Linked DNA regions of Homo sapiens: region 1 is linked to region 2. Evidence: fine-mapped expression QTL. A gene starts in region 2. The other region holds a variant in brackets. All regions are shown on one strand. Distances are from middle to middle.

Region 1 (9,535 bases), 270 kb after region 2:
TCTTAGCTTTAGCCATTGAGAGCTCTTTCAGTTGGCTTCTGTGTCCCTTTGACATACCCCTTAATTGTGGGGTGTTTTGTTTGTTTTTGAGCTTTTCCCTACATTTTGGCATGATAAGAGATGTTCCAGGCTCATCTCGTCTATTTACTGCCTCAGTCCTACCATCAGCATTTCTCCATGGAGCCCTGGTTCCTTTAATTGAAGAATAGTTTTAGAATCCAAGATCTGGCCAGGCGCGGTGGCTCATGCCTGTAAATCTCAGCACTTTGGGAGGTCGAGGCCGGCAGATCACAAGGTCAGGAGATCGAGACCATCCTGGCTAACACGGTGAAACCCCGTTTCTACTAAAAATACAAAAAATTAGCCGGGCGTGATGGCGGGCGCCTGTAGTCCCAGCTACTCCGGAGGCTGAGGCAGGAGAATGGCGTGAACCCGGGAGGTGGAGCTTGCAGTGAGCCGAGATCGCGCCACTGCACTCCAGCCTGGGCGACAGAGCGAGATTTCGTTTCAAAAAAAAAAAAAAGAATCCAAGATCTGGAGTTAGGTATGTGATATGGGGTTTGGCTCTGTATCCCCACCCAAATCTCACCTTCAATTGTGATAATCCCCACGTGTCATGGGAGGGACCTGGTGGGAGGTAACTGAATCATGGGGCCAGTTTTTCCCGTGCTGTCTTGTGATAGTGAATAAGTCTCACAAGATCTGATGGTTTGATAAAGGGGAGGTCTCCTGCACAAGCTCTCTCTTGCTTTCTGCCCTGTAAGATGTAACTTGCTCCTATTCACCTTCCACCATGATTGTGAGGCCTCCCCAGCCATGTGGAACTGGGAGTCAATTAAACCTCTTTCCTTTATAAATTACCCAGTCTTGGTGTGTTTTTATTAGCAACGTGAGAACGGACTAATACAACATGCTTGTTGCTACTGAGGTATCATTGCTTCTAGACTCTGTCAGCTAACAGAGCAGGGAAACATCTACATGTATGTAACCCATGAGTATATACATATAGTATCTATAATATTTCTATGTAATGCTTCTTTAGTTTTAATTGTTTGGTTTTAAAAAATAACTTGCTGAAATGGATGTTTAAATTCTTGATTTTAAAACTTTATCTTTTTAATGTCTGTATTAAGGGTTATGAAATCTCTAAGCATACCATTAGCTGTATCCTACACATTTTATATGCATGTTTAATTACTATACCATACAAAATACTTTATAATTTTTATTGTGATTTCTTCTGTGACCCATGGGCTATTTAGAATTACATTTTTCAATTTTCTAATGTATGCAGCTTTTATAGTTATGTATTTTATAATTAATTTATAGTTTTATAGCTTAATTGTATTAAATTGTATTATACTCAGAGAACATACTCAATGATTGCAATCATTTGAAATTGTTAGATATTTGCTTTATGATACAACTTATTGTCAATTTTGGTAAACATTTTGTGTGTGCTTGAAAACAAATATGCATTCTGTGGTTCTTCAATGCAGTGTTCTATGTGTGCATATTAATCTTGTTTTCCAAAGATGTTATTGAAATATTCTAAATTCTTACTGAATTTTTATCTGCTTGTTCTATTTGTTATCAACAGTTATATTAATTTCTCTCTTGTAAGGGTGGGCTTGTCTTTTTCTCTGTGGCTCTGTCAAGTTTTGCATTATATTTTGTGAGACTGTGCTATTAGGTATATGCAAATTGTGAATAGTTATAGCTTCCTGATGAATTGAAGCATAATATTACAAAATGTCTTTTTTGTCATTTGTAATGCTTTTTGGTCTTAAAGTTTGCCTTATCTGATATGAATATAGTTTTCTTTTTATAGTGTTTGAATTGCATATCTTTTATTTTCATTCTTTTCGTCAACTTATATTTTATTTGTTCACACATTTTTATATTTCATTTGCTTACCCATTACTGAGCTTTTCTCCTTTCCTATTCTGACAGTATTTTTCTTTTAATCGGGTCATTTACCCATTTATATAAAATATATTTAGGTTTAACCCTACCATCTTATTCAATGCTATTTGTCCTGTCTGTTTTATGTTCTCTTTTCTCTCCTTTCTCACTTTCTTTTAGATTAATTGGGAATTTTTATTATTCCATCTTCCCCCTTTTTAGCTTCCATATTACACACCTTTAAACAATTCTTTTAATGTATATCCTAGAATTACAGACCGTGGGACAAATTCAGCCCATCACCTGTTCTTGTATGGCCTATAAGAATATCTCATGGCATCTGAAAATTTAATTAAATTCAAACGTCATTGCTTATAAGTAAAGTTTTATTAGAACTTTTGTTGTCTTTTACAACTGCATAATCTGTATATATCAAAGATTTTCCAGAACAGGAAACTAAAGCACAATATAGAAAATAATTGAATAGAAATTATAAAAATTCTGATAGGCTTGTACAAATCCTAATTTCAGATATTTCTATTAATCAAATGATCTTTTTTGTTCCATTGATCACCCTTATAATAAATGATGTTATGCATTATACATTATACATTAAATATTGCATACTAATTATGTTACTTTAATACATAAACATGTGCCAAAAAACTCCACTTTAGTTTTTGAGTTTCAGGAGATTAATTTTGAAAATAGGATTTACATGCTCAAAAGTATGCAAATGAATAGATGAATCTAACCAACTAACTTGAGCTAAAGAAAAAAAATGATGTTGATTTCATATGTTAGCACTCCAAATAACCCATGAACACTGTATTGTAAGCCTTCCTGGGCCTTAACCCAAAACAAACATGGATACGAATTTCAAGATAATTTGGGGTGTATTCAGCAATCCTTAAAGCAGAGTAACTTGTGGGTCAGATACACTTTGCCTTTACATTGTGTTAAGTCTTCCTGTGTTTGTTGCCAGCATGTTTAAATTGGGATGTTTTATATGGAACAAAATCTACATTTCTGCCTTCTCTTAGAACACGGGCAGAAGTGAGCCAGCATATCTCACATAGCAATACTGGGTTGAAGCTTAGTAGATGTTGTCCTCTGTATTGGGTCTTAGGGCTGCCATAGCAAAGTACCACAAACTGGGTGGTTTAAATAACAGAAATGTATCATCTCAGCTCTGGAGGCTAGAAGTCCCAGATCAACATGTTGGCAGAGCTGGTTCCTCCCGCTGGCTGTGAGGGAGAATCTGGTCTATGCCTCTCTCCTAGCTTCTGATGCTTTCCTGGCAATCCTTGGAATTCCTTGGCTTGTAGTTGCATCCCGTCAACCTTTGCATTCATGGTTCACCTGGCATTATCCCTGTGTGCATGCCTGTGTCCACATTTCCCCCTTTTATTTTATTTTTTATTTATTTTTGAGATGGAGTCTCACTCTGTTGTCCAGGCTGGAGTGCATCGGTGCAGTCTCGGCTCACTGCACCCTCCACCTCCTGGGTTCAAGTGATTCTTCTGCCTCAACCTCCTGAGTAGGTGGGATTGTAGGCATGTGCCACCATGCCTGGCTAATTTTTGTATTCTTAGTAGAGACAGGGTTTCCCCATGTTGGCCAGGCTGGTCTCGGACTCCTGACTTCAAGTGATCTGCCTGCTTTGGCCTCCCAAAGTGCGGGAATTAGAGGCGTGAACCACCTTGCCTGGCCTACATTTCCCCTTTTTATAAGGACACCAGTCATATTGGCTAAGGAGTCCACCCCCCTCTACCATGACCTCATCATAAGTAATTACATTTGCAACAACCCTATTTTCTTTTTTTTTATTTTTTTATTTTTTATTTTTATTTTTTATTATTATACTTTAAGTTTTAGGGTACATGTGCACAATGTGCAAGTTTGTTACATATGTATACATGTGCCATGTTGGTGTGCTGCACCCATTAACTCGTCATTTAGCATTAGGTATATCTCCTAATGCTATCCCTCCCCCCTCCCCCCACCCCACAACAGTCCCCGGTGTGTGATGTTCCCCTTCCTGTGTCCATATCTTCTCATTGTTCAATTCCCACCTATGAGTGAGAACATGCGGTGTTTGGTTTTTTGTCCTTGCGATAGTTTGCTGAGAATGATGGTTTCCAGTTTCATCCATGTCCCTGCAAAGGACATGAACTCTTCATTTTTTATGGCTGCATAGTATTCCATGGTGTATATGTGCCACATTTTCTTAATCCAGTCTATCGTTGTTGGACATTTGGGTTGGTTGCAAGTCTTTGCTATTGTGAATAGTGCCGCAATAAACATACGTGTGCATGTGTCTTTACAGCAGCATGATTTATAATCCTTTGGGTATATACCCAGTAATGGGATGGCTGGGTCAAATGGTATTTCTAGTTCTAGATCCCTGAGGAATCGCCACACTGATTTCCACAATGGTTGAACTAGTTTACAGTCCCACCAACAGTGTAAAAGTGTTCCTATTTCTCCACATCCTCTCTAGCACCTGTTGTTTCCTGACTTTTTAATGATCGCCATTCTAACTGGTGTGAGATGGTATCTCA[C/T]TGTGGTTTTGATTTGCATTTCTCTGATGGCCAGTGATGAGGAGCATTTTTTCATGTGTTTTTTTGGCTGCATAAATGTCTTCTTTTGAGAAGTGTCTGTTCATATCCTTTGCCCACTTTTTGATGGGGTGCAACAACCCTATTTTCAAATAAAGCCACATTCTTAGGTATTGGGAATGAGAACTTCAACATATAAATTTGAATTGACACAATTCAATCCTTAACACCCCTTTTAGAAGGGACATGCATTCCCTCATTCCCCACAATTGCCATTTGATAGAGTATTCATTCCTGGCCCACTAAGATATTTAAGTTTGTGATCCTTGTCCTAAATCCCATAGGCTTAGGAGGCTGTATACCTGACAGGTAGACCTAAATATTAGGAAATCATAAGATCATAGGATGTCAGAGAAGGGAAGAACCTCTGAGATTAACTGTTGTCACCCTCTTGCCCTATTGCAGAGGGGCAAATCTAAAAAATGCTCTCACTGGTCTTTTCCAAAATCGTTCCCGTAATAGTACCTAAGATTCTTATTATTTACCTAAGATTAAAAAAATCCATTGCATCAAATTTATTTGAAAAGGGAGATAAGTTTGACAAAACTGTCTTTTCAGTTCCACAACACGGCATACAAATCCCTTTCCTTATAACTTTTCTCAGAAACTGGCTTGTGGAATTTGGTTTATCCTGTAGGGCCTTAGTATTATTTTTTGTTTGTTTGTTTATTAGAGTTTTTGCACTGGATGCTCTGTTCCTTAGAAAATAAAGAGGCTTTCCAAGTAAATAGGGCCATTGTGTACAAATTAGAGTTCAGGAAGGATGCTTCTCAATGGTTCAGCTGTTTCATAGGCTACTTAACATACAGCATGGGTAAACATGAGTTCCCATGTACAAAGGGTTTTTCTAAATTTATAGCTTCCAAACAGCCATTAATTTTGCTGCCATATGGGTCACAAGAGGCAGGCTGATAAATCTTTCATCCGCAGTGGATTATGTTTTCCCATATGTATGTTTATTTTCAGAATCCATGTGTATTTCAGCTAGGGTGCAGCTGATCTTCTACAAAAACTCTGCAAGTTCATAAGAAGGAATCAATAATATACTGTACCCGCCTGCTCTTGATAAACTCTGACTCCTTAGGTATTCAGAAGAGAATCCAGGGAGATCCTGATTCTGCATATCATCCCATATTACAAATGACTATAAAAGTTGGTGAATAATAATGCTTGACCTTTAAGAAGCCAGCAGTTTTCAACCAAGTCAGTCAATAGTGACGAGGCCTTAATCCAAAGCCATTATGAAACTCCAATATTCCCCCCAACCTCAGAAGTTTGTCTTTTTATTCTAGAACTACATTGGGAGTAAATGATTTTTCATCATTATTTAATAATAGCCTAAATCACTGCCTTAAGGTATTTGCCAATTTAGATCTGTTACATGGTAAATATTAAATCACATAGTTTTCTGCTCAACATATTCATCACTGACTATAATTTGCATGGCATAACTTGAATGTAATTTCAAATAATTTGGTACAATAAATATAATGAGAATTAGATTATACCTGCCTAAAGGACAGCACGATTCATATAATTGCTAATGTACTGATTCTTCCATGTATTTTGACATTCATATTAGGTGGCTCTCTTTTTTTGTTATTAATAATGAATTTAAAATGGCTTGCAGTTCAAATTTGATAGTTTTCCAAGTGCTTTCATGTTCTTTGTTTCAAGATTTTTCAAAATGAATAGGAACTGTAGGAAATAGTTTATGTTATTTCCATTGTCTAGAAGAATCTGAGGATCAAGCCAGTTAGTGACTTGTCTATGGGATACAATCTATAAGGACAGAGCTGGGCTCAGGCTTAGGTTTTGTGCCAAGTGCAATGTTCTTTCTTCTTTTTTTTTTTTTTTTTTTTTTTTTTTTTGAGAGGGAGTCTCGCTCTGTCGCCCAGGCTGGAGTGCAGTGGCGCGATCTCGACTCACTGCAAGCTCCGCCTCCCGGGTTCACGCCATTCTCCTGCCTCAGCCTCCCGTGTAGCTGGGACTACAGGCGCGCGCCACCACGCCCGGCTAATTTTTGTATTTTTAGTAGAGACGGGGTTTCACCGTGTTAGCCAGGATGGTCTCGATCTCCTGACATGTTCTTTCTTCTATACTTTGTTGCTTCTGAAAATATTGTGCTTGGGTATTTGTTTTTTACCCTGTAGTTTTAACAAGCCCCACTCGAAAGCACTCTAAAACCCTGGCATGCACTGTGTTTGCAGTCCCTGTTGTACTGTTTCAAAGTAACCCATTCTATTGTGTGCTGAGATTTACTCTATGATAACTCTAACTCATACAAACTAGTAGCTGGGATATTACCTCCAAGGGCCACTGGTCGCCAAAGACTTATGTACTCTGTCCTTGATCAAGCTGAGAGTTTGATATTGAGTTCCAGTGAGAAAGAAGCTACCCTTTCTTTATCTGTAGCTCAGGACACTTCCAAATTGTCTTGCTCATCTCTGTACCTTTCCTCTGCAGCTTCTTCAAAAGGATAAATTAAATTCCTGCAAGAACATCTTTAAATAAACTATACTTGTATTGGCACCCTTGCATTTATGTAGAAATTAAAGGAAGACATATTTTTATTACAAAAATAACTTCTTAATAATAGCTGGGTATGAACTAATTGCTTTCAAGGCTTTGCACATGGTGGCAGGAATTATTACATTAAATGTACACTGTGGCTTTTGGCTTGGGCATACTTGGATGAGGGCTCAGCCACCAGGAGATCCCCACAGTTCTCATCTTTCCAGATAGATGAACTTGATGCCTCCTTTGCATTGAGTATGAGAATGGTATAGGCCCTCCCCCAATAAACTGGTAGGATTTGCATTTAGCAATATTTAACAATAAAAACTATGTTTACTGAGCTTTGCTGTGCCAAGCACTGGGCTAGGTGCTTTCTATGTAATAATGCACGGACTCTGATGCAAAACTACCTTAATTTGAATCCTTCCCCATCTACTGACTAGATATTTAACCATATTGAGTTGCTTAACTTTGTTATGCCTCAGTTTCTGCATCTGTAAAATGAGAATAAGGAGAGTACCTACTTTAGGTGTTACGGAAGTGAATGAGTTCTTAATGTCCAGTACTAAGAACAGTATAGGTATGCAATCAGAACAGAAGAAAGGGTAGTTATTGTTGTTATAATAATGATAAGGAGGAGGATGCTGAACTCTAACCAACTGAGAGTTAAAAAGTATATTTTCTTTTATTGACTTTATTCTTTAACCCCAACTTCAGGAAACTGAAGGCTTGGACAATATTTCCATGACTCATTCAAAGTCAGATGTCAAACAGCTAGTAAATGGCTGAGCTTGGAGAGGAACAGGTTTCTTTGTCTATGACTAACACGTTAATTGATTAAATCATCCAATCCACTGGCCAAACTAGTCAAACAGCCAGCAGGTTTATGATATAGAGGTGAGGGGAATGAGCTTGATGGTGTTATAGGATGGACAGTGGCTTTGGAATCAGAAAATCTTGTCCTGAATCAGCCTTCACTAACTCAAGTCAGTTGACTTCTCCAAGTTTCTATTATTTCATCTATAAAATGATTCCCAATCTAACCCATTCAAGATGGGTGTTCAGAGAAGCAAAGAAATATCATATTTGAGAGAATTTTGTAAATCAAACTGCCATAAATTGTGCCATTTATTAATGTTTGATATTTTACAAAATGATTTTTACTTGTTTTACACAGTTGTTAATTAAAATGACCAAATCACTTGGTTATTGCTTGTAATATATGTGGAATCCAACAGTTTTTTTAACCTACAAGTACATGAATCAGCCTTGAAAACAAGCACGATGATTAATATTGAGTGTCAACTTGATTGGATTGAAGGATGCAAAGTATTTGTTCCTGGGTGTGTCTGTGAGGGTGCTGACAAAGGAGATTAACATTTGAGTCAGTGGACTGGGAGAGGCAGACCCACCCCCAAGCTGAGTGGGCACCATCTAATCAGCTGCCAGCGTGGCTAAAATAAAGTAGGCAGAAGAAAGTGGAAGGAGAGAGATTTGCCGTGTCTTCTGCCCTTCATCTTTCCTCCATGTTGGATACTCTTAAGTTCTTCAGCTTTTGGATTCTTGGACTTACACCAGTGATTTGCTAGGGGCTCTCGGGCTTTCAGCCAGACTGAAGGCTGCACCATCAGCTTCCCTATGTTAGAGGTTTTGAGACTCAGTCTGGATTCCTTGCTCCTCAGCTTGCAGATGCCCTATTGTGGGATCTCACCTTGTGATCATGTGAGTCAACTCTCCTAATAAACTACCCTTTATATATATATGTGTGTGTGTGTGTGTGTGTATGTGTGTATATATATATATATATATTCTATTACTTCCCTTCATATATATAAATATATATAAAAATATATATAAATATATATAAATATGTATAAATATATATAAATATATATAAATATATATAAATATATATAAATATATATAAGTATATATAAATATATATATAAATATATATAAATATATATAAATATATAAATATATATAAATATATAAATATATAAATATATATAAATATATATACCAATATATAAATATATAAATATATATAAATATATATAAATATATAAATATATAAAAATATATATAAATTATACATATATAAATATAAAAATATATAAATATATATATAAATATATATAAATATATATAAATATATAAATATATATATAAATATATATAAATATATAAAAATATATAAATATATATAAATATATATAAATATATATAAATATATATAAATATATAAATATATATAAATATATATAAATATATAAATATATATAAATATATATAAATATATAAATATATATAAATATATATAAATATATAAATATATATAAATATATATAAATATATAAATATATATAAATATAAATATATAAATATATATATAAATATATATAAATATATAAATATATATATAAATATATATAAATATATAAATATATATATAAATATATATAAATATATAAATATATATATAAATATAT
Region 2 (9,319 bases):
AATATGGGGAAATGGGAGATTTCCCCAAAGTGGCACTTTGAAAATGTGTGCAGCCACAAAAGCATTGGAGAAAGCTACACTCAATGAGTGTCTAGATTTTTCAAAGTGATTTTTCAAAGATCAGTCTCGCACTTTACAGCTATGTTGTTCATCATGTCTTGGTAGGGGGATTGCCATGTTTATTCTCTTTCTTATGATAAAGCATTTCTGAGGCTGCTGAAGCTCTGACCCATGGTTCCGTCACCAGAGGACTCATCACATTCCATGGGGATCTTAAAAAGACCCAGCAGGGGCTGCCAAGCCTGGCACCTAGGTGCTGTGGCTGGATCATGTTATCTAACCTGGCTCTGTTTCTTGACTCCCTGTAAGCTCATTTGTCTGCTGGTGCAGCAACATGACATTTCAGGAGGGCTCTACCTGCTTGGCATATGCTCATAGCTGAACAGCTGCGAGAGCCAGCTACCTCCAAACACATGGAAGGAATGTGGCGGGTGGCAGGTGGCGGGGTGGGGTGGCGGGTGGTGGGGGGTAGGGGGGTGGGTGTTGCTTCCTGCTTTTTGTGATTTGGGGCACTGAAGATGCCATCTGCAGTACTTTTCAGAGGTATCAGAGCCTATCTGCCCTTCAAGAAGGATCTGGATTAAATTATAGATCCTTCTGTGTGAGAGAGCCCCCAGAGACATCCTGATCCAGGTTTATATAATGAATAAGGCTAGAGCTTTCCCTTGACAACAGGCTTTGGTAAATGGAAAAAGGGATCATTAGAGGAGATGACAGGGTTGCCAAAGGGACTGGAGAAAGAAGAGACTGGGCAGCTGAAGACAAGCATCAAGGATGACATCATAGCTTTGTTTAAAGCCACCTTCAGAGAACACAAACTTACAACAAATTGCAAATCTGTATTGACAGTTGTAGAAATTGGGCAGCCTTATCATGGAGCACCCAGAATAACTCCCTTTTACTGGTTAATGATCGTGGGGTTGGACAAGAATGGTTGGGGATGACCCCACCATGCAGCATGGAACAGGATGGCCCCTGGTTGTTTACTTTCCCATCAAACATTCTCCCTGCTCCAAAGCATCAGCCCTGTATATGTAGGGTCACCTCTCCCCAGTCTCGGAAGCTTTGGGTAGGGATGAAGCATGTGACCAGGCTTGAGACAATCAATTCATCATGGTTCCCTGACTGCAGTGATTGGTTCAGGGTTGGCAGCAACAATGACATTCTACGACACTTTTGCTGGGAGTGCTGGGACCTAGGCAGAGGTCTTTCTAGTCAGACTTGAACTTGAGAGGGTGTAAAGCTGGAATGCCTGCAGCCATCTTGAAACTACCAGGAGCCTGAGACTGAAGTCAATGCAGTGCAGACAGAGCAGAGAGTTGGAAAGAACCAGGTACTGATGACATTGCTTGCACTCAGAATTCAGTCATGTGTGAAGGCTGACCTTCCATTGGACTTTTCAGTTGTCTTTTCTTAAATAAGTTTAGGTTGAGCCATCTGTTGTTTGTCACCATAGAAGCGTTGACTGTGATAGTTCCGAGTAGCTGGTGGGACAGGACTGATGCAATGATGTAAGTTGCAAGGTGGTGTGTAGCAATTCCCTGTAAGGAAATGCTTTTGAAAGAGCCATCTGAAGAGGGTACATGCTCCCTCAAGGGTGAATGCCTTTTCAGTGGCAGGATTTGCACCCTGCACTGGATGAGCACTTGGGGGAGATAATGGAGAATAAATTCCAGCAAAATGGGGGGTTTTATTGGGCACTTCTTTCGATCTATGTGTTTCAGAGTCTCTTAATGACCATGAAGTGAAGTTACATGCCCCTTCTGACTCCCTCTCTGGGTATCTCTATACAAATACGAAGTGATAAACTGAATATTCTCTCTGTGACCCTGGTAACAGACCCTGGTGGGCAGGATTGTCACGACTACGTCTCCTCCACCAACCTAACCTCGGGTGGTTTCTCTGCTCTGTCAGACAGGGTAACTCCTTTTGCCCTCCAAAACCACTTCCACCTTCTGCTCCTTGCACCTACTTTCTTGCCCCTACCAAGAATTTCTCCCCCTTATTTTTTTCTTTCTTTGCCTTACAAAAGCCAGCTCATTTTTTTTTCCTTTTCTTTTTTTTCTTTTTTTTTCAGATGGAGTCTCACTTTGTCGCCCAGGCTGGAGTGCAGTGGCGTGATCTCGGGCTCACTGCAACCTCCACCTCCCGGGTTCAAGCGATTCTCCTGCCTCATCCTCCTGAGTAGCCAGGACTACAGGCATGCGCCACCATGCCCAGCTAATTTTTGTATCTTGAGTAGAGATGGGGTTTCACCCTGTTGGCCAGGATGGTGTCGATCTCTTGACCTCATGATCCTCCTGCCTCGGGCTCCCAAAGTGCTGGGATTACAGACATGAGCCATCGCGCCTGGTCCAAAAGCCAGCTCCTTTCCGTGAGGCTGTGTCCTCAGGCTATCTCAGACTGATGATGTGGTTCCAACTTCTGACCTCTGAGCGATCCAGATTTCTGAAGCATGTGTTTGTGACTTATTAATACTGCTTTGCATACTTCCCTGATGTCTCCTTGTGGTCTATCAGCTCCCCATCTTCTTGAAGGCAGAGACAGATTATGAATCGTCTCACCCAGCACACAACTTTGCACAGGCTGTACTCAAACTCAGCAGATGCTTATAGGTAAGTGGTGCCCCAATGTCAGGGGCTATTGTCAGAATGCCCTGCTGGAATATGGCCACCTGACAATCTCAGACCGAGATCATCAGTGTTCACTAGGCTGCCTATGGGCTCTCCTACAGCACTTTGCCAATCCGTGGGAGTTGTTATGTCCAAGGTAGTTGCTGGGCCCAAGATACAGAGGAGACAGAAGCATACCTCCTCCCTCCAAGACCTTCCTACCTTACCTGCACCTGACACCCCATGTGCCTGATGATATATACGTGTATATATATATCATATATATAGCCATATATAATATATATGAATGAATATATCATATATATAGCCATATATATATATATATATGTATGAATAAATATTTATTCATTTACTAAGTACCAACCAGGTATCCACAGTGTGCCGGGCACTGGGCATAGAGTGATGAGGAATGCAGATACAGCTCCTGCCTGTGGTGCCTCAGGGCTGGAGTCCCTCCCACACAGAGCCTGGGTTGTTCCTACTCCCTCTGCCTCTCTCTCTCTAGACCCTGAGATATCTGGGCTCAGGTATCTCTGATCTGCACGTGTTTCCTTTGGAGGTAGGGTCTGTTTGCCCTTTGCTGATGCCAAGGGCTTCCTCCTAAGTTCTTTCTACCTGCTCCCCCTTTTATCCAGGACTGAGCCATAGCTCCTTAGTCCCAGGAACCACCTTCTAATCCGTGTCCTCTGCTCACACAATTTTGGCTGGGTCTCTCCTAAAATCCAAGAGAGGCCTGGGCTCCCCAGGAACAACCTAATGGTTATAATCACTGTGTGTTTTGCATTTTAAATGTCTGCTTGGTTTAAATTAGTGAAGCCAAGAAGTCAAAATTCTAAGAAAAGTAAATAAAATTCTGACCGGTTTGGGAAAAGCAAATCCAAGCTCCTGCTGGGCTCCAGCTGGAGGTCGTGACCCCTAGGCTGCGAGGGTTGGGCTTTTGGCTCTTAACCTGAGGATGAGGCTCTGGGTTCTACCTGCTGCCTGGCTGACGGCTGGTTGAATGCTGTGTCAGCGACGAGCGACCCTGACTTCCCACACACCGGCCAGGCCAGGGACGGTGGCAGGAGCTTTTTCATATTCCACAGTTCAGCAGCCCCAAGCTGCTGGGGGCGGAGGACAGGTGGTGGGGGAGAGAGGATTCGGTCCCCAGGGGCCACCTGGCGCTGGTGGCATGGCGGGGAGCCAGGCTTGCCTTTGCCCTCTCTCTGTGCCGGAGCCCTGGACCCTGGCTGGCATCTCCTGAGAGCAAAGCGAAGCCCGCGAGTGATCTCTGGGGAACTTCCTAGAAAAAAGAAAGAATTTCAGGTTCGAACGGTGTAGGGAGGGCCGAACACGGGAGCAAGGTTGGCCAGGGCTGCCCTGAGCCCTGGAGAATCCCCAGAGCGATCGTCCACTACATGCCCACGTGCGTGCGTGTGCCAGGGAGCGAGAGCCCGGACAGCGGGAGTCGGAGGCAGGACCAGGAGCTGCAGAGGGGCCGCGGGCAGAGCCCCAGCGAGCGCGCTGCCCTGGCGCGGAGCCCAGGGGCCGCCCACTGGCGGGGGAGGCGGGGAGCGCGCAGGGAGGCGGCGGCGGCGGTGGGGCTTCCCCGGGCTTCCCCTCCCCGGTCCGCGGGTGCCCGGCGCGGGCCCAGGAGGCGGAGGCGGCTCCTGGGGAGAGGGATCCGGGAGTCCCTGAGGCGGCCCCGGCTCCGCACTAGGAGGCGGGGTCCGCAGTATCGCCAGCGGCCGGCGCGGCTTCCCGGAGCCCCGGAGCCCGAGGCGCGAGGTTTAGGCTGAGCCCTCCCCGGCGCCTGCCCCCGCCCGGCGCCCGCCTCCGCCCCCGCCCGCGGCCTGGAGCGCGCCTCCCTCGCCTCCCAGGGTCTGGCGAGCCGGCGCCGGCCGAGCTGCGGGAGCCGCGGAGAGCACCAGCTGACGCCGCGGGAGCTGCTCCGGCCGCACCATGCGGGAGCTGGCCATTGAGATCGGGGTGCGAGCCCTGCTCTTCGGAGTCTTCGTGTAAGTAGTGGCGCACCGCGGGCAGGGCGCACTGACGCGGGGGAACAACCGACCAAGCCTCTCTGTGCCCTAACTTAGTTTGCGCAGCCGCTTCCCACTGGGGCCTGGGTTCGAGGTCCCTTCCCCGCCAAGTGCCCGCAACGTGTCCTACGGGACCAAGAGAGACCCTTCCTCTCTCCTTCCTGGGACCCTAGGCGCGGAGCGACCACCGCGCGCCGAGGCTGAGACCTGCTCCCGGGTCTCACCGGGCCCGCGCCTGTCGCCAGCCCCGCACCACCTGCCCGGGGGATCCAGGGCTGCACCTCTAAACAGGGACGCGCACCCTGGCCCGTGCCCTCGGGAAGTTTCTCCTTCTGTGTGATCTTTGAGGCCCACGTTGGAAGTCTTTACCCCTGGCCCCGTCTCCGATTCCTCCCCGCTGTGCCCAGGGCCAGACTCCTTCCGTGTCCCTGGCTTTAGCGCCCGCGGTCCTGGCGAGCGTTTTCCCAGCGGGCGTTTGCGGCGCTTCTCCTACTGAGAAACTGTTGCTGTGGAGGCTTGAGAAGTCAAGGGGCTGCAGGCCGGGGTGGGATACACACACCCTGGAGCTCTGTGCCCGGTCGATGTCCGCTTTGGGGGCGGAGGCCCTCCAGGGGTAGCCGTGAAATGCCCAGGGTGGCTTTGAGCGGCTGGCACTGAGAACAGCGATCCCGAAAAGAAGAAGGGGTGGTGGCGCAGGTTCTTTCAGAGATGCCTGAGCCTCCTCCGTGCGCCCAGGGACCCACCGCTCATTGACTTCCAGGGCCCAAGCTGCAGGGAGCTGTCACATCTCTCTTTCAGACCTGAGCCCAGAACACCAGCTCAGAGCCACCCCGCAGCCTCCCGTGAGCTGCTGTCACCTAGGCACCCACACCTGCACTGGTCCCTCCATCAGTGAGCCAAATTCTCTCCCCCTCTCTGCCCATGGATGTTTTCTGCCACATTCTAAGTATTAAAGTTACATGAACTTTTTGGATTTGCCATGCATTTATTTATTTGTTTGTTTTTGTTTTCGTTTCTGGAAAAGCCCTCCCGAGCCAAACAGGAGGCCCTCTTTGAATTTCTGCCTCAATCTGGAGTCATCCATGGCAGGTGTGCTGTGTCAAAGATGACTTCTGTTCTGGGCAGCCCAGGGGATACACATGGAAAGAAATGCCCTTTCTTGCATGTTTTTCTTTAGCAGGGATTAAATTCATCCAGAGTATTTATTCACACCATCAGAAAAGGCCATGAGCTCCCCCAGATGCAAGCAAGCCCCCCTCTCCCGCCTTCTGCCCGAACACTGGTGTTATTCACTGGGAAGAAGGAACGAGAACTTCAGTTGGATTTTGATGCATTTGGAAAAACAAAACACTCTTCCCTTCTCCTACTCTATTTTCTACCTTTGGAATGTACGTTAAAACTAATGATTGCTGTGTGATCAGATGGGGACAGTTTCTAATTGGCAGATGGGCTAAAACCTCATTAAATTATTATGTGATAGAAATGATAAACTAGTTTTCAGTGCACAGTAGAATTTAACATTTGTTGGGTGAATGTAGGAAGAATGCTGAGATAAAGTGAGATAGGCTCTTACACTATCTCACTATCTGGTTTGACTGCTGCTGGGGGTGCTCAGATAAAAAAGGGTCCAACAATATGTAAAAATATTTATAGTTTTCAGGTGTCCCTTCCAATATCCCCCCCAAATATTTATGAGATGTTTACAGATATACAATGGTCTATGCAGTAAATTTGAAAACTTGGTAATTATTGCTTATGCGCGTCTTGCTTTTTCTAAGGGTGTCATGTAAAAGCTGGACAGGCAGTTTATGTTCTGTTCTCTGAAGTTCCCTCTTGTGTTACTTAATAGGGGATCTGTTGTCACACATGGACATTGATAGCATTTTTGGATGACTCCCAGGTTTCTTATCAAGTTGTTAACAGTGTGTCCAACTTGTGGCTCTTTTACCTGCAAAAACCAGCTTTGGTATTGATGCGAGCCTCCCTAGGGGGCAGATCTTGGATGTTCAGATGCTGTTAGTATCAGGCATGTACCGACTTCTGGGAGGACGGCTGGGAGCATGCAGAAACAGATGACCCTTTGTTTTCTCAGATAAGCGTCTGGCACCTTGACAGAGGCTGACTTTTGGGGGAAGTTTAATTCTTCCTTTTGCCAGTACTGGAAATGATGGCAATATTGGGTTGTACCTACCTCTGCTCACGAAGATGGTGGTCTTAGCAGCACAGGGGTTTAGAAAGTGCCCCTGGGCAGGCTGAATCCGATTTCCCTGCTTCAGCCAGTGTAGCTCAGCAGCTAGTTTTGCTTGGTATTTCTACCCTATTGCTCAGGATGAAAGAATTATCTGCGGGGAGAGGGGGTATCTTGCTTCTTTGCAAACTTATGCCCCCGGAGAAACATCACCTGTAGATGTGCCTGTTCTCTGACTACATTTGCTCTGCATGAGAGCAGGGATCCTGTTACCCGTAGCCCATATGCTCCTCAAAGATTCCAAGTGAGAGCTAAGAAAATGCATTTTGGGCCCACGGGTAGTAGGGATGCAAGCTTTTCCTTACTGACTCTTAAAGATCCCTTTTTCTGTTTCTAGACTAGGCACAGTGCTGAGGTTTTGTGCATTCAGAATTCTGAGAGGTTGCTCTCCAGGCACCCCCGCTCCCGCAACCAACCCGTAGATGCTCAGTCCTGCCTAAGGACTTCAAATCGCTGGGAAGGAAATTAGTAGAGTAATGCAAATCAAGGCTGGCATATAAAGTTTAACATAACAGAAGATAAATTGGTTACAGGAACCCAGTGTTTAGGAAAAATAAAAGTAAAATGTGAAGCTTTGAGGCTGTGTTTAGTACCATGAAGTGTGTAGGCCTTGAGGTCCTATTGCTCTTACTCATGGATTGTGGGCAGAGCAGGAAGGAGAAGCACTTTTGGGCTTCTTCTGTCCTGCTGCTACCCAAGACTCCAGGAGAGATTCTTTTGAGTATTTCTGCAAATGCCAAGGCTAGCAACAGACCTTACTCAGCAAGCACATAGTGTAGAAATGAGATGGCTGGTTAACACCCAGCAGACCAATGGTGCACTACTAGAAGCATGCTACTCACTTTGACCACTATCACCAGTACAATAGCAATCATTTACTGAGATCTTACTGTGTGTCAGGCACCAATGAAGACTATCCCGTATGCCATTTAGCCTGATGAAGGGGGTATATTGATATTTCTTTGTCATAGATGAAGAAACTGAAGCACAGTAAAATTAAGGAACTTCCCAAGTAACAGGGCTAACAAGGGCAGCTCTGAGATCTAAATCTAGATGCTCCATCTGCAAGGTCTGGACTCTCAATCACTTTGCTTCATAAAAAATAGCAGCCAGTTTTGGTCAGTCCAGGGCTAACTTCATGCAAAAGGTATTCCATGTGATTTCTCTTTTAAGCCTCATCTCACTGGATTCTGTTCATTATTCCCACTTTACAAACAAAGAAACCAAGGTTTAGAAAGGTTGAGTAAGTTGCCTGAAGTCACTCAGCTAGCAGGAGGTATAACCCTGATTCAAACAGGCAGCTGACCCCATGTCCCTGAGTGGTCAGCCTCTGAGACAGAAGACATCCAGCCCCAGGCTTCCAGACTGGTGCTAAACTGACCACATCCTGTGAGCAATTCCTTCCATGACTCCTTATCTCCAGAAGAGCAAGTACACATTGCCTGGAGTGATGTGTGGGAAGCTGTCACTGTAGCTCTAAAATCTCATGCTAGGATGACACCTCAAAGGTGGAGGGATGGCAGCAGTGGTTCACACTTCCTAAAAGATGGGATTTGATCATGGCATAGATTTTAAGAGTACGATGTGGTGAGTAAATTGCCGGTGAGAACATCAATTGTAGTAGTAAGAAACTAGGAATACACTGCTTTCTTCCACCGTTTTTGGCTGTCATCTCCCAGGACATCTGTTAGTTCAAGCACTCTGTATTTACAAGATTGCAGAAAGGACCCTAGAAAGATGATGACGATCTCATGTGCTGGACGGGGGGAAAGATGGTCTGTCTGTTTCACTTGTAGGCTTGAGTTCCTTGGCGTCTTATCTTCCTCTTTCCTTCCTTCCATCTGCCCTTCTCCCTATCCCTCCCTGTCATTTCTGGTGGCTCTCTGTCTGCAGGGTCCCCCTAGGAGCTGCTTAGGATGCCAGGGTGCACAGGTAATGGTGTTTACCTCCCCTTAGATAATCCAGCATCCTTCTTTGAGCTCTTAGGATGCAAGAGGCCTTTGCCAGGCACAGGGGATGAGAGGAGAGAAGGCCAGGTGGCCCCCAGTACCTTACAGTCCAGTAGGGAAAGTACACAGTGGGCCACCATTTGTTATTGTCTCCAATGCAATTACTGGCTTTGAAAATTTTGCCTCCAAACATTTCTCTTTCATTGTTCATCCACTTGATGGATATTTGGCACCTTCTAGGTGCAAGCATTTGTGATAGTCATTTCCTTTTCCCTTCATTGGTACGCTTTGATTGGTGTAATTCCAGCAAGACAGAGGGAAACTTGGTGCTTTACCTGGTCCAGGTGACTTGCTTGAGGGCACTGGATGTCAGGTAGATTTTTGAAATATCGACAAAAACAGACTCATCTT

What was found. PIP is the estimated chance that this variant, and not a neighbour inherited with it, causes the effect. A credible set is the group of variants that fine-mapping cannot tell apart.
Region 1: its variant is the best candidate, but not a certain one, in a credible set for the expression of PLPP4 in testis (GTEx, PIP 0.86).

The regions. Positions count from the first base shown.
Region 1 is chr10:120,724,415-120,733,949 of GRCh38, forward strand. All of the region lies in intron 2 of LINC02930 (long intergenic non-protein coding RNA 2930), which reads left to right. Among named protein-coding and RNA genes, the nearest start is that of LINC02930, 120 kb to the left of the region's middle. The variant C/T (reference allele first, on the strand shown) is at 4,470.
Region 2 is chr10:120,452,672-120,461,990 of GRCh38, forward strand. It overlaps PLPP4 (phospholipid phosphatase 4), which reads left to right and starts at 4,556. Exons shown (of 7, transcript NM_001030059.3): 1 at 4,556-4,690. The coding sequence starts at 4,635.